Homo sapiens: one gene and its partners. The protein of the gene in region 2 interacts with the protein of the main gene of each other region in a pairwise test. Each region holds a gene or a part of one and is shown on either strand. Other genes may lie near its edges.

The links. Proteins that work in one complex are often made in the same cells at the same time.
Region 1: the proteins of C22orf39 (region 2) and NFATC2IP interact in binary tests that used the Homo sapiens proteins (3 or more experiments, as listed by UniProt).
Region 3: the proteins of C22orf39 (region 2) and KRTAP13-2 interact in binary tests that used the Homo sapiens proteins (3 or more experiments, as listed by UniProt).

What each region holds. Positions count from the first base shown.
Region 1 is NC_000016.10:28,946,259-28,953,938, forward strand, and holds the start of NFATC2IP (NFATC2-interacting protein), read left to right. Parts: upstream 1-4,678; 5' UTR 4,679-4,753; coding exon 4,754-5,140; intron 5,141-5,873; coding exon 5,874-5,946; intron 5,947-6,643; exon of another isoform or gene 6,644-7,680. UniProt on the Homo sapiens protein: In T-helper 2 (Th2) cells, regulates the magnitude of NFAT-driven transcription of a specific subset of cytokine genes, including IL3, IL4, IL5 and IL13, but not IL2.
Region 2 is NC_000022.11:19,444,704-19,452,025, reverse strand, and holds the start of C22orf39 (synaptic plasticity regulator PANTS), read left to right. Parts: upstream 1-4,314; 5' UTR 4,315-4,337; coding exon 4,338-4,361; exon of another isoform or gene 4,362-4,480; coding exon 4,481-4,648; intron 4,649-7,322. Other genes in the region: UFD1 (ubiquitin recognition factor in ER-associated degradation protein 1), read left to right, coding at 1,282-1,356. UniProt on the Homo sapiens protein: Negatively regulates long-term potentiation and modulates adult synaptic plasticity. Stabilizes the interaction of RTN4 isoform A/Nogo-A with its receptors, inhibiting clustering of postsynaptic AMPA receptors at synaptic sites.
Region 3 is NC_000021.9:30,370,888-30,376,686, reverse strand, and holds KRTAP13-2 (keratin-associated protein 13-2), read left to right. Parts: upstream 1-4,415; 5' UTR 4,416-4,473; coding exon 4,474-5,001; 3' UTR 5,002-5,297; downstream 5,298-5,799. UniProt on the Homo sapiens protein: In the hair cortex, hair keratin intermediate filaments are embedded in an interfilamentous matrix, consisting of hair keratin-associated proteins (KRTAP), which are essential for the formation of a rigid and resistant hair shaft through their extensive disulfide bond cross-linking with abundant cysteine residues of hair keratins.

The DNA.
Region 1 (7,680 bases), on a different chromosome or scaffold from region 2:
TTTATTATTATTTTTGGTTAAAAAGTTGTAAAATGGGCCTGGCGTGATGGCTCACGCCTGTAATCCCAGCACTTTGGGTGGCTGAGGCGGGCGGCTCACCTGAGGTTGGGAGTTCGAGACCAGCCTGACCAACATGGTGAAACTCCATCTCTACTAAAAGTACAAAAAATTAGCCAGGCGTGGTGGCGCATGTCTGTAATCCCAGCTACTCAGGAGGCTGAGGCAGGAGAATCGCTTGAACCCGGGAGGTGGAGGTTGCAGTGATCCAAGATTGTGCCACTGCACTCCAGCCTGGGCAACAAGAGTGGAACTCCATCTCAAAAAAAAAAAAGTTTTAAAATGTATTATTATTTTTCGTAGAGTTGGGGGTTTTACTATATTGCCTAGGCGGGTCTTAACGCTCAGCCTGAAGTGATCCTCCCACCTTGGCCTCCCAAAGTGCTGGGATTACAGACGTGAACCACTGTGCCTGGCCTTAAATTGTATGTATTTATTTATTTTTAGAGAGAGGGTCTTGCTCTGTTGCCCAGGCTCGAGTGAAGTGGTGAGATCATAGCTCACTGCAGCCTTGAACTCCTGGGCTCAATCAGCCTCCCAAGTAGCTAGGACTACAGGTGTGCATCACGACACCCACTAATTATTATTACTTTTTGTAGAGACAGGGTCTTGCTATATTGCCCAGGCTGGCCTTGAACCCTAGACCTCAAGTGATCCTCCCACCTCAGGCTCCCAGTGCTGGGATTACAGGCATAAGCCAACATGCCCGGGCTGGTTTTATTATTGAATAAGCATAATTTTTCTTTCTTTTTTGACATGGAGTTTCACTCTTGTTGCCCATGCTGGAGTGCAATGGCACAATCTCAGCTCACTGGAACCTCTGCCTCCCGGGTTCAAGTGATCCTCCTGCCTCAGGCTCCGGAGTAGTTGGGATTACAGGTGCCCACCACAATGCCTGGCTAATTTTTTGTATTTTTAGTAGAAAAATACACCACCATATTGGCCAGGCTGGTCTCGAACTCCTGACCTCAGGTGATCCAACCACCTCAGCCTCCCAAAGTACTGGGATTAGAGGCGTGAGCCACTGCACCCGGCTTGAATAAGCATTAAGTTAGAATGTGATGCACATCACTGGCAATCTGGTAAAAGATTGCAAAGGCAAAAAGAAATATCCTTCATTACAGCCAAGCAGGTGTAAACCATTATCCTGTTTTCAAGATAAAATTTCAAATTCCATATTGTTACAGGAGCTGCAGGTTCATATGCCCACTGTGCAGTCACAGCTCTGTGACTCTGAGACGGTGGGGATGCAGCAGAGAGAGTTTAATGATTGCAGGGTGCCGAGCGAGGTGATGGGAGGAGACCCTCAAATCTCTCTCCAGGGAGTTCTGGGCTGGGCTTTTAAGGGGTTTGTGGGGAGTGATGGGCTGGAATATTGGGGTCATTGATTGGTTGGGAAGGGGGATGAAATTGTCAGGGTGTAGAAGCTGCATTTTGCGGGGAGTCAGCTCCTTGTGGGGTCCTTCAGGTCAGCTGAATCAGTAGTTCCATCAAGACCTGAAGGAATATCTCAAAGGGAACACCTAATGTAATGTCCAAGCCGTGATTCAAGAGCAGTTAAGGGGAACTATAATCTTCTGACAGGGGCTGTGTGACTGTGGGGCAACAGGCACCAGATGGCTTTGGGGAAGCAGGTCAGGGAGCAGCTGCCCTGAGATCAATGCTGAGTGCACCGCAAGTTTGGTTTCTTTTCATTTCTCCCTCTCCCTTCTTCTCAAGTTTATAGGGGTGGTTGCAATACCATGTTTTCAAGATAAACAATGACTAGTCCTCACGTAAGAGGACGTGACAACACCTTTAGTCAAACATAGTTCAGCCTTTTTTTTTTTTTTTTTTTTTTGAGACGGAGTCTCGCTCTGTCGCCCAGGCTGGAGTGCAGTGGTGCAATCTCGGCTCACTGCAACCTGCGCCTCCTGGGTTCATGCCATGCTCCTGCCTCAGCCTCCCGAGTAGCTGGGACTACAGGCGCCCGCCACCACGCCCAGCTAATTTTTTGTATTTTTTAGTAGAGACAGGGTTTCACTGTGTTAGCCAGGATGGTCTCAATCTCTGGACCTTGTCATCCGCCCGCCTTGGCCTCCCAAAGTGCTGGGATTACAGGTATGGGCCATCGCGCCTGGCTTTTTTTTTTTTCTTTTGCAACAGAGTCTGGCTCTGTCTCCCAGGCTGGAGGGCAATGGCTCGATCTCGGGTCACTGCAACCTCCACCTCCTGGGTTCAACTGATCCTCCTGCCTCAGCCTCCCAAGTAGCTAGGAATACAGGCGCACACCACCATGCCCAGCTAATTTTGTTTTGTATTTTAGTAGAGATGGGGTTTCACCATGTTGGCCAGGCTGGTCTCGAACTCCTGACCTCAAGTGATCCACCCGCCTCGGCCTCCCAAAGTGCTGGGATTACAGGCGTGAGCCACCACGCCTGGCCCCAGTCTAACTTTATGATGGTAAGTGGGGTGACCACCTGTGTTATTGAATTGGCTTGTATGGTAGGGGTGAGTAGACACAAACTTTTCATATCTTTAGGACAGGAGGTAGCCTGCATCTTGGAGCAAGACTGAAGCCAAGCTTTTCCCTCCTAGGGGAAATGGGAGACAAGAGAGCTAACTGCCTTGACGACGGCATTTCGTCAGGGCTCCCAGGTCCTTGAATTCCTGAATTTGGAGACTGGCAAGTGGCTTATGTAGCCATCATGAAGATTTACATATGCCAGGCTGGGTGCTGTGGCTCACACCTGTAATCCCCGCACTTTGGGAGGCCGAGCCAGGTGGATCACTTGAGGTCAGGAGTTCAAGACCGGCCTGGGCAACATGGTGAAACCCCGTCTCTACTAAAAATACAAAAATTAGCTGGGCAAGGTGGCAGGCAACAGTAATCCCAGCTACTCGGGAAGCTGAGGCAAGAGAATCCTTTGAACCCTGAAGGTGGAGGTTGCAATGAGCTGAGATCGCACCATTGCACTCCAGCCTGGGCAACAGAGCAAAACTCCGAATCAAGAAAAAGAAAAAAATAAAATAAATAGTCGGGCGCAGTGGCTCACGCCTGTAATCCCAGCACTTTGGGAGGCCAAGGCGGGGGCGGAGGGGGGTGGATCACCTGAGGTCAGGAGTTCAAGACCAGCCTGACCAACATGGTGAGACCCCATCTCCACTAAAAATACAAAATTAGCTGGGCATGGTAGTGCACGCCTGTAATCAATCCCAGCTACTTGGAGACTGAGGCACGAGAATTGCTTGAATCTGGGAGGCAGAGGTTGCAGTGAACCGAGATCGAGCCATTGCACTCCAGCCTGGGCAATAAGAGCGAAACTCCATCTCAAAATAAATAAATAAATAAAATTAAATAAATGAATAAAATAAAATTTAAAAATAAATAAATACATAAGATTTTTTTTTGAGATGGAGTCTCACTCTGTTGCCCAGGCTGGAGTGCAGTGGTACAATCTTGGCTCAGTGCAACCTCTGCCTCCTGGGTTCCAGCGATTCTCCTGCCTCAGCCTCCCGAGTAGCTGAGATTATAGGCGCCTGCCACTACGCCTGTCTAATTTTTGTATTTTAGTAGAGACAGGGTTTTACCATGTTGGTCAGGCTGGTCTCGAACTCCTGACCTCAGGTGATCTGCCCACCTCGGCCTCCCAAAGTGCTGGATTATAGGCGTGAGCCACCACGCCCAGCCTTATTATTTCTATCTTTCTTTCTTTTTTTGAGAGAGAGTCTCGCTCTGTCGGCCAGGCTGGAGTGCAGCGGCAGGATCTGGCTCACTGTAACCTCTGCCTCCCGGGCTCAAGCAATTCTCCTGCCTCAGCCTCCTGAGTAGCTGGGATTACAGGCGCACGCCACCACGCCCGCCTAATTTTTGTATTTTTAGTAGAGACGGGGTTTCACCGTGTTGGCCAGGCTGGTCTTGAACTTCTGACCTCGTGATTCGCCTGCCTCGGCCTCCCAAAGTGCTGGGATTACAGGCGTGAGCCACCGCGCGCGGCCAGCCTTATTATTTCTTTAAAGCATTTTTGAGACAGGGTCTCGCCCTGTCACCCAGGCTGGGGTGCAGTGGTGCGATCTCCGCCTCCCGGGCTCCAGCGAAACTCCCACCTCAGCCTCCTGAGTAGTTGGGACCACAGAGGGGTGCCACCACGCCCGGGTAATTTTTGCATTCTTAGTAGAGACGCGGTTTCGCCACATTGGCCAGGCTGGTCTCAAACTCCTGAGCTCAACCAATCTGCCCGCCTCAGCCTTTCAAAGTGCCAGGATTACGGGCGTGAGGCACCGCGCCTGGTTAAATCCGCGGTTTCCACAGGGAATTCCAGGCCCGCCTTCCTTCTCCCGGAAACCTTACCGCTCGAGGACTACATTTCCCAGGATGCCCTGCGACTAACCAAGCCGGAAGACGGTTGTCTTGGTTGGGCGGGTCCGGGAGAGGCTCGTCTGTGGAGAGGTGGCCCAGCCAATGGGTGAGGCCGACTGAATCGAAAGCTACGGTGATTGTGCCGAGGTGATTGGAATCTTTGGCGCCTTGGTTTCAGAGGTGGGCGCATGATGAGCGGGTACAGAGACCAATGAAAAGGCGGGAAGGCGGATCCCGCGCGTGGGGCGCGAAGAGTTGCTGACGAGCAGGCTGTTTGTCCAATGCAAGGCGAAAGTCGCTGAAGGGGGCGGGGCGAGGCGAGAGGAGGCGGGCGTGTGTTGTGGAGGAAAGTGTGCCATGGCGGAGCCTGTGGGGAAGCGGGGCCGCTGGTCCGGAGGTAGCGGTGCCGGCCGAGGGGGTCGGGGCGGCTGGGGCGGTCGGGGCCGGCGTCCTCGGGCCCAGCGGTCTCCATCCCGGGGCACGCTGGACGTAGTGTCTGTGGACTTGGTCACCGACAGCGATGAGGAAATTCTGGAGGTCGCCACCGCTCGCGGTGCCGCGGACGAGGTTGAGGTGGAGCCCCCGGAGCCCCCGGGGCCGGTCGCGTCCCGGGATAACAGCAACAGTGACAGCGAAGGGGAGGACAGGCGGCCCGCAGGACCCCCGCGGGAGCCGGTCAGGCGGCGGCGGCGGCTGGTGCTGGATCCGGGGGAGGCGCCGCTGGTTCCGGTGTACTCGGGGAAGGTGCGCCCGGTCCCGGGGAGGGGACCGGCGGAAGGGCCAAGGGCTTGGCCTCCAGGGAGGGGCCGGCGTTCGGGGAGGGTAGGGCTATAGGGGTGTTGAGGCTGGCGTTCTGGGGCTGGTCCTCGGGCGTTAGGGTGTTGGAGGCAGGGAGAGGCAGGGCTCCGGGACTTTCTGCAGACTGGGGTGGTGAAGGAGGGTGGGATGCGTTGGAAGTTTAGGATTCCTAGGAGCTAGAGTCTTGGGGGCACAGGGAGGCTGAAGAGCTGGGATTCCTGAGATTTTGGAGAGGGACTGGGAGGACCTGGGGCCGTTGGATTTTGAGGTTGGGGTCCATGGCAAATGAAGCCAGGGAGCTGCAGTATTGGGGGTTGGGGTCCATGCGGGTTCAGAGAGGACTGGGCGGCTCCAGAGGCTGGGGTCCCCCGATGGTCGTGTGAGCAATGGGCTGAGAGTCCCTAAGAGTCAGGGGTAGAGGGGCGGCTAGTAACCTAGTTAAAAAGGGCAAGGAAGCATACATTTCAGAGTGTCTTAGGCAGATGGAGGAAAGGGTGAAGGGTACTTCCATTCTGAATCCTGGGGAAGCTGGACTTCTAGGTTGCCAGGAGAGGGCCAAGGTGTCCACGATCTTAGGGAGGATTTGGGAGCTGGGTGTCAGGGAAGAATTACCCCCAATTTTTTCTTTCGGTAGGGGAAGGACTTGGGCCTGACCCCTCTCCCTTCTTTGTCTTTGCAGGTTAAAAGCAGCCTTCGCCTTATCCCAGATGATCTATCCCTCCTGAAACTCTACCCTCCAGGGGATGAGGAAGGTAAGGGAGGGCCTCCAGGGAGAGGCACGCAGCCGCTGGCTTCTCTTAAGAGAATTCCTGGGGTTTATATTCCTGCAGTCAGTTGTCTCCTGAGGCTCAAGGGAAGAGCGTGGGAGAGGGGACTCCTGCATCCCAGCCACAGGAGCTGGATTGTTAACAAGCATAGAATGTATTAATGTATACATTTCTGGTGCCACCTGAAGAGATGCTGATTCTGTAGTCCTGGGCGGGGCAGGAGGCGGTAAGGTGTTGAGAATCTGTGACATCTTGTTACATCTGCAGCAAGTTCTTTGGGAACACTGGAGCCAGCAGGGTGTTCTCTGAATCTTATCAGGGATGCCCTGTCTTTGTCCTCCCCCACTGATGCATTTTTTGCAAACAACTCAAGGGCGGGGAATAGGAATCTAGTCTAATAAGGAAATAATCCAGTGGGCAAATGGAGACCTTGGACCAAGACTCTTGTACCATGAGGGAGTACAGTGGGGTGATTAAAAGCAAACAGGAGCCATCTGGCCTGGGTTTGAATCTCAGTTCTCTCTTTTTTTTTTTTTTTTTTAGACAGAGTTTCGCTTTTGTTGCCCAAGCTGGAGTGCAATGGCACGATCTCGGCTCGCTGCAACCTCCACCTCCTGGGTTCAAGCGATTCTCCTGCCTCAGCCTTCCCAGTAGCTGACTAATTCCCACCACGCCTGGCTAATTTTTTGTATTTTTAATAGAGATGGGGTTTCACCATGTTGGCCTGGCTGGTCTTGAACTCCTGACCTCAGGTGATCCGCCCATCTTAGCTTCCCAAATTGCTGGGATTACAGGCGTGAGCCACTGTGCCCGGCCTCAGCTCTATCTCTTAATAGCTGTGTGATCTTAGGCGAGTTTCTTTTTTCTTGTTTTGAGACAGAGTCTCACTCTGTCACCCAGGGTGGAGTGTAGTGGCGCAATCTTAGCTCACTGCAACCTCCATCTCCCAGGTTGAAGCCATTCTCCTGCCTCAGCCTCCCGAGTAGCAGGGATTACAGGCGCCCGCCACCATGTCTGGCTTTTTTGTATTTTTAGTAGAGATGGGGTTTCATCATGTTGGCCAGGCTGATCTCGAACTCCTGACCTTAGGTGATCTGTCTGCCTTGGTCACCCAAAGTGCTGGGATTACAGGCGTGAGCCACCACGCCCAGCCTGGGCAAGTTTCTTAATTTCTCAGTGCTTCAATTTCCTCATTATCAAAGTGGGGATAATAGTAGACCCCATTTTGGTGCTGATTTTGGTGAGAATTAACGAAAGGGAATATAGAGAGAGCTGCCTCTTGGCTAGATATATGCTTTAGGACAGTACCTAGGACACAGAAGTGCTACGTAAAAGGTACCTCTATCCCTGATACTCAAAACGTGGGCCCAGCCATATATGGCATCCGTTGGAAGCTTGCTAGAAATGCAGGATCGGCTGGGCACAATGGCTCAAAGTGCTGTAATCCCAGCACTTTGGGAGGCTGAGATGGGAGGATTGCTTGAGCCCAGGAGTTCGAGACCAGCCTGCGCAACATGATGAGACCCTGTTTCTACAGAAAAATAAAAAATTAACCAGGCATGGTGATGTGTACTTGTAGTCCTAGCTACTCAGGAGGCTGAGGTGGGAGAAACACCTGAGCCCAGGAAGTCGAGGCTGCAGTGAGCCATGATCATGCCACTGCACTCCAACCTGGGTGACACAGTAGGACCTGGTCTCAAAAAAAAAAAAAGAAAAACG
Region 2 (7,322 bases):
ATAATCCTCATGCATCTTTTCTCAGGAAGCTCCTAGGAGGTGTTCCTCACTAAAATGAAGGAATAAGGTAGAAATAAGAAAGTCATAGAATCCAGGAAATAAGGAGCCCCCACTAACATGTACGGCACCTAGAGAAAGGCCAGTCCAGGTACGGCAGGGCGAAGGCCCAGGAGACACAGGTTTGTCAAAACAGATGAACTCCATGCAATGCAGGCTGTGATTGAATAGAGGAAGAAGCCAAACACAGCTATTGACACCAGGATGAATGGAAGGCTGTGCGGCAAAGGAAGACTAAATGCAGCTGTGACTCAAATTTACATGAATGTGACCACATAAATACTAAACAGTGCTCTATTGCAGGTATAACATGCTACAGTTAGTGGGGAGCCAGGTGCAGGGATGTGTGTTGAACATTCCAGAATCCTCTTCTTCCTAGGGAAAAGTTGAGATAATGCCTCAGACTGACTAGCAATAAAAGCATGTGAAAAAAAATATGTGCAGTTTTCAAAGGTTTGGGAAAAAACAATCCCTCTTTCTGCTGATGGAAGGATAGCTTAGTGGAATGTTTCTGAGGGCTGGTTGGTCTCTATATGTTAAAAGCATTAAAAGTGTGTACACACTTTGACCCAGGAATTTGAGCTCTAAAAAAAATCAGAGTTGTGTGCAAATACATTAAGCTGCTTACCACAACAATGTCCACTGGTAGAAAACTGGCCCTCCTACATCATGGAATTCTTTTTTACAGAATTCAGTTCTGTAGCCTTGGGAGTATACTAGACAGGAAGTTTATTGGCATGAGATTTCAGAATTAAGTGGGAAAACAATTCTTTAAGCATGTACAGAAAAGTGACCTGAAATGTTTTTGGGTGATGAACTTACAGACTTTTTTTTTTTTTTTTTTTTTTGAGGCAGGGTCTTGCTCTGTTGCTCTGCCATCCAGGCTGGAGCAGTGGCACAATCATAGCTCACTATGGCCCTGGCTCAAACCATCCTCCCGTCTCAGCCTCCCAAGTAGCTGGGATCATAGGCACATACCACACTGAGCTATTTTTGGTAGAGATGGGATCTCACTATGTTGCCCAGGCTGGTCTTGAACTCCTGGGCTCAAGTGATCCTCCCACCTAGGCCTCCTAAAGTGCTGGGATTACAGGTGTCAGCTATCGTGTCCAGCCTGAGATATTTCTTATGAGTAATGTGGATGGTACGTGAGTCCATAGAGTAAGGCATTTATTGTAAACCTCCAGGGAGTTTCTGAAAATAGTATCTTCTCTTCAAACCTAGGATGAAGCTGGAGGCAGATTCGTCGCTTTCTCTGGAGAAGGACAGTCATTGCGTAAAAAGGGAAGAAAGCCCTAAGTGAGGACTGTTGGCTGATTGGAAAATAATAAAAGAATCATTTGCAACATCTTGGCTTTTAGTTACTGGCACTGACAGGGACGAGCCTCATCAGAGAATACTCTGTTACTTAAGATTTATTTAGAGTTACCTAAGAATTATTAAGTTTGACTTGGAAGTGGAGCAGCAGGACTTTGTAGTTGTATGCTTGATTTGGGGAAAGACAAAGAGCTGTCCCTGAGGGCCTGTAGATAGCTGCCTCCTCACCTCTTCACGCTTTCAGCTTGAGGGGAGCTCCCACTGCCTCAGCAGGAGCAATTCTGCATCCCTAATTCTGTCAAAACCTATGAAGGTGACTAAATTGTCTAACATGAAGTGTTCTTTCTTTTTCTTCATTTATCCTTTCTTTTCCTACATCAATTGCATAGGTGTCAGTCTTTGGCCTAAAAAAAGGCTTTAAATAGACATGTGTTCTATAAGTAGTGGCTGTCCCACTACTGTGGCTGCAATTTAAGTATTTGACAAAGAATGTTTCTATTTTTATTTTACATATTTTTTTCAAAAACACCACTCAGAAGAACCTGATCTGAATGAGTTTGCACTTTTATTCTCATTTCATATGGACATAACTGGCTCCTTAGTGAACCTGTTCATAGTGAAACAACTCCATGGAGAAGCAAACATGTGAATGTTAGAATGAACAAATGCTAAAGAGATGTTCCTCTCCTTCTTCCCTACTCCCCAACTCCCAATTTTAATTTATTAAATCATCCAAGCTTCTGCTGGCCTGTATTTTTTATCAGTATTTATTTGGTCTTAGATCTTCACTTTCTATAACGTGAGATCTTTTGACATGCTAATCTGATTATTTTAAATTTGTTCCCATGAGCCACTGTGCCTGGCCCCATTGGGAATAATTCTAAGCCAAGAATTTCAAGTAAAAACAGGCAATAACTAAAGCCTAAATCTAAATGTTTGATTAGGTACTAACACAGACTGGTGGTTGGGCCTCTGACCATAACTGAAGGCCTGTTGGCAGGTGCTCCGTGTTCCATCTCACCATTAGAAAAGTGTCCCTCTGGGGCTTCTCCTGGAGAAAGTAGGAAGAAACAAGGCTGCCTGATCCCTAGGTGGCAATGGCTAAGCCCAGCAGGGTCCCCCATGAGCCAGGGCTAACCCTGCTTCCAGACATGGGGGTCCTGCCCTGGTCAGGGCCCCTCCAACACTCCAGAGAGGAGAGAATGGTGGCCCCAGGGTCTATCCACGTCTTCAGTGAAGAGTGTCTATGAGTGTCATGATGTTCAGTACTTGGCCTGTGGCACAAACCATCATCACTGGAAATGGGCGTGGTTTTGGAAGGCATGAGCACTGTGGGGACTTACCTGAGCCTCCACTGACAAAGTCTCAGTTTTACTAGCAGAGGGAGAAACCCTTGGTGGGTAGACAGCCTTCATTTGCAGGATCACATCAGCTAACAGACTGTCACTTTATGCATAATGAAGAATGTTACAGTACCTCTGGCTCTGGGTTTTTGTCTTCACTAAGCAACACCTGCTGTGTATGCAGTGAAACGCCTGGTCCTTTGCTGGAGGCACACTCCCCTGCCTGGACCAGGATGGATTCCATTGCAGAGCCTTTTAATGACACAGTGGGGCCAGTTGGAGCACTGATCCTGGTCATTACTCCTGCACCCTGGCCTGCAGCCTTCCTCTCAGTGTCTTATTTGGGCTTGGTCCTTGAGCCGGCTGCCTCAACAGCAGGACCCCTGGTAAAACTGCAGCTTTCTGATCCACCTCCAGGGAGTCTGTCCCAGTGTCATTCCTGGGACTGGCCCAGCAGTCCCAGGATTTGTATCAGTGGATACTGAGGATTTGTTATCAGTGAAGTGGGAGAACCGCAGCATAGGTACTGCAGGGCGTTTCTGCAAGCCCACCAGCCTCCTCTTTACTTGCCTTTGTTGCCTCTTGTGCATTGCTCCTTTTTATAAACGTCCCAGCCAGGCACTGGCGCTCCGCCTATAATCCTAGCACTTTGGGAGGCCAAAGTGAGAGGGTCGCTTGAGGCCAAACTAGCCTGGGTAACTTAGCAAGACCCCATCTTTACAAAAAAAAAAAAAAAAAATTAAAAATTAGCCTGGTGAGGCTGTGCATGCTTTTGGTCCCAGCTGTTCGGAGTCCAGGAGTTTGAGGTTGCAGTAAGCCATGAACACGCCACGCCACTGCACTAAGCCTGGGTGACACAGCAAGACCCTGTCTCGAAAAATGAATAAGGTAAATGTTACATGTCTCCCGCACCCTTAGAATAGAACTACAGACATCCAAGCCACTCCTACCCCGCTCACCCCTGCTACACACCGCCTCCATACCTTTGACCGGCCTATGGCTGTACTCGGATTGCATTCTCAGCCTCCACTTCAAGCCTGCGTTCCCTGGGGAGGTCATTCAACCCTAGATCCACCATATGTCATGCCCAACCAATCTCAGTTACTTTGCGAGTTCACCTCCATCCTGAGTGGACGCTCAAGCAAGACTGCTGGAGCTGCAGATCTGGGAGGTTCGCTGCACCACCTTGATGCTCAGTATGTACTTTTGAAAATATACCGGATTGTTGAGATTTGAGAAAATCTCATAAAGCTGCTGAAAAGAACTGGCCAGAGCCGTGTGATTTGAGAGGCGGCTGACGTAAGGTAGCTGCGCGGCCCAGGATGCCCGCCTGGCCCGGGGTGAATGGCGCTGTCGTCGCGGTGGTCGCGTAGGCTTCGCGCCAGGTCTCGCCCCGGATTTACCCTGCGACCCCGGCCCTCCGCGCGCGCCGCAGCCGCCCTCGGTTGCTATTGGTTGCTCGTCCTGTTTGTCGGCGCTTCTCGAAGAAGGGGGCGAAGACGTGATTGAATGTGTCGGTGCTCATTAGTTCTTCTGTCAGTCGATCACGAGGTGCCGTTTTCTTCATTTTTCATTGGCTGGCGGACTGAGGGGCGGGCTTGGCGCGCCGGTCGCCCAGACATGGCGGACGGCAGCGGCTGGCAGGTGAGTGTGCTGGGTCGGAGCCGGGAACCACCGGGGTCTTCCGGAGGGAGGGAACGGGACTGGCTCGGGGCGTAGGGCGCGGCCGCCGGGCCCCGCTCAGGCGCCGCCTCTCGCCGCAGCCGCCGCGCCCCTGCGAGGCCTACCGCGCCGAGTGGAAGCTCTGCCGCAGCGCCAGGCACTTCCTACACCACTACTACGTCCACGGCGAGCGGCCGGCCTGCGAACAGTGGCAGCGCGACCTGGCCAGCTGCCGCGACTGGGAGGAGCGCCGGAACGCCGAGGCCCAGGTGCGCCGGGAGGGAGCGGGGCGGCGCTTCGGAGCGCCTTGCGGGGCCCAGCTTTCCCCACCCCTCCACGCCCCATGCCCCGCGACCTAGCCGGGGACTGACGGGGTCCCTATCCTCCTCACGCTTCCTTTCTTTTGAGAGATTGTGTAAATTAGCATATCAACAGGACTTTCAGAGGGCGTGAAAGACAAAGGAGGAGACCAGCGAGGAGGGGGTGTAGAGTGGTTTAGAGAGGGAAGAGGGCAGCCGTCCGGTGTTAGGGTCATCAGCTGGCCTACGCAGGAGGTGATGTTGCTGAGTCCTGAGTGACCAGGAGCCAGCCTTCATCCAGCCCCGGTAGACACCGCTGAGAAACAGATAAGGCCTGGGTTCCTGAAGCAGAGGGTAGGTGGATGGTTGGAGAGCGGTATACCAGGGACCTGGCGGGCCTTTTGATACGGAGTTTAGAGTTTAGTCTAAAGTGTGCTGGGAGGCATAATTCGATTTATATCTTTAAAAGATCAGTCTGTTAGCAAAGTGTGGTGGCGTGCACCTGTGGTCCCAGCTACTTGGGAGGGTGAGGCGGGAGGATCGCCTAAGCCCAGGAGTTCAAAGCTGCAGTGAGCTATGGTCACACCACTGCACACCAGCCTGGATAACAGAGGGAGACCTGTCTCAGGGGGGAAAAAAAAGAGAGAGGGTAAAAGAAGTTCAATCTGTTTGCTAGGGTGTAGAGAATATATTACAGGAGCAGAGAGACCGGTAAGGAGGTGGTTCTAGTTGTTTTTTCGTCCAGCAAATATGTACCACATTGGGTGCTCTTGGGGATGCACGAGTGATAAGAAGAGTCTCTGCCCTCCTGGCACCCACACTGTAGTGTAGAATACAGTGCTACGGTGGACCCCTTGTGGGAGAGGAGATGGAGAGAAGCCAGCCGAAAGGTGCGAGGCTCATGGGGAGTGCCAAGGAATGAGAATCAATGGGACTGATCAACACTTCAACATTATTAAGTGTATACAGTGATCTGAAAGAGATGAACTGATGTGGAAACCAGACTGCTGTATAAAAGAAAATGATGACTATTCCATAATATGTGAAAGTCAAAAAAAGTAAGAAAGCTGACAGCTTATATAGCAAGAGATTGATAACTTTAATGTATATATATGTGCGTGTGTGTGTATAAAGAGCTGTTATATATATATCAATAAGAAATATAGGGATTATTTCAGAATGGAAAAATGGCCAAAGGACACAAAGAAGCAATTCATTAAAAAAGAAAGCCAGCTGGGCATGGTGGTGGGCACCTGTAATCTCGGCACTTTGGGAGGCCGAGGCAAGGGGATCGCTTGAGCCCAGGAGCTTGAGACCAGCCATGGGCAACATGGTGAGACTCCATCTTTATAAAAATAATAAAAAAGGAGAAAAGCCTGGGCATGGTGGCTCATGCCTGTAATCCTAGCACTTTGGGAGGCCGAGGTGGGCAGATCACCTGAGGTCAGGAGTTTGAGACCAGCCTGGCAACATGGCGAAACCCCATCTCTACTAAAAATACGAAAATTAGCCACGCATGGTGGCAAACACCTGTAATCTCAGCTACTCGGGAGGCTGAGATAGGAGAATTGTTTGAACCTGGGAGGCGGAGGTTGCAATGAGCCGAGATCGTGTCACTGCACTCCAGCCTGGGCAACAGAGTAAGACTCCCTCTCAAGAAAAAAAAAGAAAAAATCAAATGGCCAGGTGTCAGGTATATAAGTCTAAATGACAGTAACAGCAGAAAGTGGTGTTGATAGAGGTTTGAAGAATTCTGGGTAGTTGTGCAGTGTTGGTGGGGGTGTCAGGTGTTCTGATTATGTAAATGTCAGATACATACCTTTTGACCTTAAGTTTTACTTCTGGAACTTTATCCCAGGGAAGTAATTGGATAACAGTGTACAGTTAAAAGTTAGAATGCTAATTATGTTTTTGATACTGCAAAAGCTGAAAACAACCTAAATTTCACTAATAGACATTTGACCAAATAGCTTTTTCCACAAAGTGAAATACCAGATAGCCTTTGAAAAGAATGGTCGGTCATCTCCCTGGGTATGGAAAAGTGCCTACAGTGTATTGTTTAGTGAAAAGAAAGCAGGAAGTAGACTAGCCAGCAAAAGATTATCCTATCTTTAGGGAAACATGTTAGCTCTAAAATGTGGACCAAAAAAAGATATCAGGGAAGCTGTTAACTGCCGCATTGGGAATGGACATTTGGGAATCTTTAATATTCTGTACTACATTTCTGATAGCTTTTTAAACACGATCAAAATATTTTATTTGAGGCAATAGAGCTTGAACAAAGACAGACATGTAGACAGATTAAGTTATCTGTGTAAAGAGGCTCACATAGCACCTGATACCTACCAAGGGCTGACAGCAAAGGTCACCCATGTTGTGATACACTGACTTGTGTCTGTATTGGGAGACAGTAGCCAAGAGAAGCTGATGGGTTAAGTGGCACTTGTGGCACCACTCAGGCGGGTGGTCTGTCCTCTGGACTCTTCCCACCCTTCCAGGATACCCAGGACATGTATTTCTTCCCCGTCTTCCTCCCTTCTCCCTAACACACTCCTCCCTGCAGCTCCCCACAGCTGCTCTCTCAGACTCTTCTCTCCTCTCCACCCAGCACCCCCAGGCTCACTCTCAGCAGGTGAATATGCCC
Region 3 (5,799 bases), on a different chromosome or scaffold from region 2:
TGTAATACAGTGCTGAGAACAGTGCCTGACATTTAAAAGTTCTACTGTAGTGATAATAAATGCACAAATATATAAATATCAACTTGGATATGTTTTAGATATTTTTATTTAAATAAATTTAATATAAAAAGAAAGCTACAGATACATATATGTATCCAATAAGATGGCATTTTTGTAACTTAAAACAACAATAAATGGTATAAACCGATAAATATATGTATAGACAATTTCCTGGAATGCTATGCAAAAACGAATGCATTATTGTGATGCCTTTGGAAAGATATGAAAAAGAATCAGACTGAGAGACTGGCCCACAAGGGGTCTCTCTCTGTAAGATAGCGAATAGAATGGTGGTTACCATAGGCTTGCAAGGGTAGTGGAAAGAAAGGACAGAGAGGTGTTGGTTAATGGGTGCAAAAATATAGTTAGATAGGAGGAATAAGATCTAGTGTTCAGTAACACAGTACAGCAACTGTGGTTAACAATAATGTATTGCATATTTCAAAATAACTAGAAAAGTAGATTTGGAATGTTCTCAACACAAAAAAAATGATAAATGTTTAAGGTGATGGATATGCCAGTTACCCAGATTTGATCATTACACATCGTGTGCCTGTATCAAAATATCACATGTACCCCATTAATATGCGCAACATTATGTATCCATAAACATTTAAAATAAAAAAGAGAAAGATGAACGCAAATCTGACAACGTGGTAACAATTGTGAGTTTAGGCATCCAGAAAATGACTCTAGAATTTACTTTAATTTTCTATTTGTTTTCAGTAAATGCAAGGGTAAGGTCTCAGAAGAGATAAGAAGAACCGAGAGGTGTGTAAGCAGGCTGTTTATAAATCTTTTTGTTTGTTTGTTTGTTTGAGACGGAATCTCACTCTGTCGCCCAGGCTGGAGTGCAGTGGCATGACCTTGGCTCACTGCAACCTCTGCCTTCCAGTTTCAAGCGATTCTCCTGCCTCAGCCTCTCCAGTAGCTGGGATTACAGATGTCTGCCACCACGCCTGGCTAATTTTTGTATTTTTAGTAGAGACGGGATTTCGCCATGTTTGAAAGGCTGGTCTCAAACTCCTGACCTCGTGATCCACCTGCCTCGGCCTCCCAAAGTGCTGGGATTACAGGCGTGAGCCACTGCGCCCAGCCTGGCCTTTTTATTTCAAACGAAAGTCATGGATGATGAAGACATAAAATGGATGAATTTGAAGCAGGAAGAGCTGTAGTGAAGTTAGAGGAGGTGCCAGGGCCTGGAAAAGTCTCAAACAATGAGGCCGGATGACCTCCGAGAAAGCCACAGGCCTGGGTAGGCTTGCATGGGGGACTGGGAAGAGACCATGAACAGGTTAGTCCAGGGAGTTCTCATCAAGCCTTTACTCAGTAGTGGGTTCTTCATAGTTAGCATTAATGTTTAATAGATACATTTCCCCTTGGGTGAGAATTTTAAAAATAAAATCTAGTGTAAAGCAGCTGTTATGAAGACTCTTTAGTGACCAGACAATAAAAGCCTCTCCTAGGTCTAGAGAAGGCAGAAAATTAAAAAGTGAACAGAAAGTAAAAAGGTGGCCGGACGCGGTGGCTCACGCCTGTAATCCCAGCACTTTGGGAGGCCGAGGCGGGTGGATCATGAGGTCAGGAGATCAAGACCATCCTGGCTAACATGGGGAAACCCCGTCTCTACTAAAAATACAAAAAATTAGCCAGGCGTGGTGGCGGGCACCTGTAGTCCCAGCTACTCGGGAGGCTGAGGCAAGAGAATGGTGTGAACCCGGGAGGCAGAGCTTGCAGTGAGCCAAGATTGCACCACTGTACTCCAGCCTGGGTGACAGAGCCAGACTCCGTCTCGGAAAAAAAAAAAAAAAAAAGAAAGTAAAAAAGGTATAGGGCAGTATATATGGATTTTTACTATTTCTACTACTGCCTAATATTTGGTTAATTTGAAAGCTTTTGAAGAATCTCTGGAAACATTGCAATAGAAGATTGTCAGTTTAAAGCTTCTGCTACATTACTATGTTAACTTGGAAAAACAATCACTTTTCAAGTAATTCAGATCATAGGCTACTTGTGGCTACTGTGTACTGTAATGATAGTTTTATTCTCTGTAGTGTTGTTATGCCTAAATTTCTAAAGAGAAAAGAGAAAGAAGAAAGAAAGAAAGAGAAAAGAAAGAAAGAAATAGAAAGAAAGAGAAACAGAGAAAGAGAGAGAGGGAGAAAGGGAGGGAAGGAGGCAGAGAGAGAGGGAGGGAGGGAAAGAAAAGAAAGAAAAAGAAAAGGAAAGAGAGGCAGAGAAAGAAAAGAAAGAAAAAGAAAAAGAAAGAGGGAGGGAGGGAAGGAAGGAAGGAGAGAGAGAGAAAAGATTTCAATATCACGTTTTCCCTGACATATCAAGATAGTGAATTTTTCTTTCTATACTAATACTTTGCCTGTGTATGTAGAGTACGTAGAGTATTTTATTAGTTCCAGAATCCACTTTTGAACTGTTAAGGCTACTCTAGTTTTGTTCTGCTTTTTCTGCCTTTCAGATGGACACATTTATTAGCATTTGGGAGTTGTTCATTAGCATTTGTACAAAGTGCACAAATAACTCCTAATAAAAAGTGTTAACCCAATTAGGAATGGGTGGAGGGACTGTTAATTGGAACTGACTTACTCCCAAGTTATTTTAGTGTTTATTCCCAGACATAGGGAGCTGGTCTAGAAAGGCAAGAACTTTTGGATATTAGTAAGTTTTTTGTTTTCTTTTTTTTGAGCAGAATCAACCTGTAGTAAGAAAAGAAAAATATTTCTCATTTTAAAGGTGTTAAAAGCTGCCATTATAAGGAATCCCATGTGTTGGGGGTGGTGCATACTTTTTGGTGAATTTAATAGGTGTCCATTCATAAAGCACAGCTTATTTTACTTCAGTGAATCAGAGTGATGGTTTAAGTATTGCACAAGGGCACTTCATGTGATGCATGCCACACTTTGGATTCTGCATGGGAGAGATAATCATAAAACAAAGTAACTAAGTGCTCTGAAACAGTGTGCTTTGGAATGAAGGAAGTTAATTTTCAGGTAGTTAAGAGGCTCTCTTTTCGATAACCATTGTGAATGCCATTTCCCTTAGTTAAACCAAATAAAATGTCAAATTCAAAAGAAGAAGAATAGACACAGATAAGAAGCCTCTTCCCCCCATTAATCTAAACATGGATTACCAATATTCTTTCTCTTTCTTGGGCTAGGAAGTGAAATATACTTCAAATGTATGAAGATCAGTAAGGCATAGAATTCCCCAGTTGAACACTATTCAGTGTGAATATTGTTAGGAAAAGTAAATAAGGCTTTGTTAGGCTTTTATATCTTAGTATAAATAAGCTTAATAGTTTCTTTTCTGAGACAAGTTAAAGTTGAATTTACTTTTATATTTGCAAGGTATTTGCAACTTGACTCTGAATAAGAAAACCATAATTAAAGCTTCAATTTTGCTTCTATCTTACTGAGAAATTAGGGGAAAGTTAAAGCTCTCTGAGAGGTAATTTTTCCATGTATGGGTTGAACAGGGGATGTTTAAAGACCCATATAACTCTAATACTTCAAGTTAAAAGCTTCAGAAAAATGTTAACAATTCCTCAAAGTTTAAGTATAAATTAATAATTGCAGCTAAGAATCTGTCCTTTTATCCAGAAAAAAAAATTGAAACATAAAACAAAATAAAATTTATGAGTTGATTTAGAGCATAACCATAGAATAGTGCTTGCTACAAGATAGGTTCATCAGAAAATATCTGAAAAACTTCAATTTAAAGTCTTACTAAAAAGTTTGTGTTTATTGTTTCCTAAGTGAGCATTGTCTAAAGTAGCCTCTTGTTAAGGAAGATGCCTGATATGGACACCCAACATAATGCTGCACTCCTCAGTTCTGATCCTGAGCTCTTAAGGTACTAGTAAAAGGTTTAACTGACAGATTGCTGAGGCTACTGAATACAGTTAGTATTTGGAGAAATCCTCCGTTTCTGGTAACAAATAATATGCTTGTGTTAAAAAGAAGGACAATCTATTTTGAGTAGTAACCACTGATGCTCCTGATAACTTAAGGGAAGTAAAGAAAGAATTTTGTGTAATTCCATTTGGTACAATAAGGACTCACTGTACTCAAATAATAAGAGGCAAGATACTCATAAATGTGATGACATATAACATTGAAGGTCAAACCACAGTGAATTCCAGGAAAAAAAAAAACTGAGTGGCTTCCTTCTAAGTGTTCCAGAGTGACTAAAGTACAAGTAAGTATATGAAGATGTGATAAATTAAACAATAACCTAGGGAAGCATTCTTATAATAAAAAGTGAGCAAGGAGAAGGGAGTGTCGAGACAGTGGACACACCCAGGTCTAAGAGCATATATAACTTGGAGTCCAGACTATGACATTCAAACTCAGAGAATCTTTCCACTATAACTCAGCTGAACTCACATCTCCCGTCAACATGTCCTACAACTGCTGCTCTGGAAACTTCTCCTCCCGCTCCTGTGGTGACTACCTGCGCTACCCAGCATCCTCACGTGGCTTTTCCTACCCCAGCAATCTGGTCTACAGCACTGACCTCTGCTCTCCCAGCACCTGCCAGCTGGGTTCCTCTCTCTATAGGGGCTGTCAGGAGATCTGCTGGGAGCCCACCAGCTGCCAGACGTCCTATGTGGAGTCCAGCCCCTGCCAGACCTCCTGCTACCGCCCCAGAACCTCCTTGCTCTGCAGTCCTTGCAAGACGACTTACTCTGGGTCTCTAGGCTTTGGATCCAGCAGCTGCCGCTCCCTGGGCTATGGATCGAGGAGCTGCTACTCAGTGGGCTGTGGGTCCAGTGGTGTCAGATCCCTGGGTTATGGAAGCTGTGGCTTCCCTTCCCTCGGCTATGGATCTGGATTCTGCCGCCCAACCTACTTGGCTTCTAGGAGCTGCCAGTCTCCTTGTTACAGACCAGCCTATGGATCAACCTTCTGCAGATCAACTTGCTGAATTTCCAGACCTTTTAAGCAAAGTGTCTCAGTCTCTACGTAGAGCTGTTATCATAGGCATTTCCAGCAATGTGAGCTAACCCCTCTTACTACTAGCTCTTCATCCTTTCTCTGGCATCAAGTACTGGCTGGACAGGCTAGTTCTTTCAGACTGTGAAATTAATGAATGAGCAAAATATAGAGTCAAATGTCTATAATTTTGAAACAAGTGATTCGTTATCACGTAAGTTCATCTTATAAAGTATATGGAAGTTCAGTTTTGTTTCACGTAATAAATTCATTTACTGTTGATTCCAATATGTTCTCTTTGTCTTTTATTGGTTTCCAAAGTTTGATTTGTGATCTGTTTTGGGGGCTCCAGGCCCCCAGACGTCTTTTCCTTGGACATCCATTTCCATCGGTAATGTCATCAGGCCTAGTGTGTGGGGAGATTCTCCGGGCATGCCAGTGCCTAAAAGACTGAGCAAGTGCATGTCTTCTGCCATGAAAACTGGTTGGATTCTTAACAGAATTATTGAGAGTACACTCATAATGGTGGTGTGTTTTCAAGGAAGACACATTTTGCTGACAATCATATTTGCTTTTTGTTTACATTTTTAAAAGAGTATTTAGAGTTTTCTCAGAAGATGTCAACTAGGTGATTAAATATAAAATTATGAAATATTTGAATAAATCTGAAATGTTATGATGGAAAAGGGAAAATATGAAATGTTAGGTACTGGAGGACATTACGGTTGTGTTTAAATATAGGAGAAAATTAATTATTCAGTGTGTGTGTGTGTTTGTGTTGTGTGTGTGT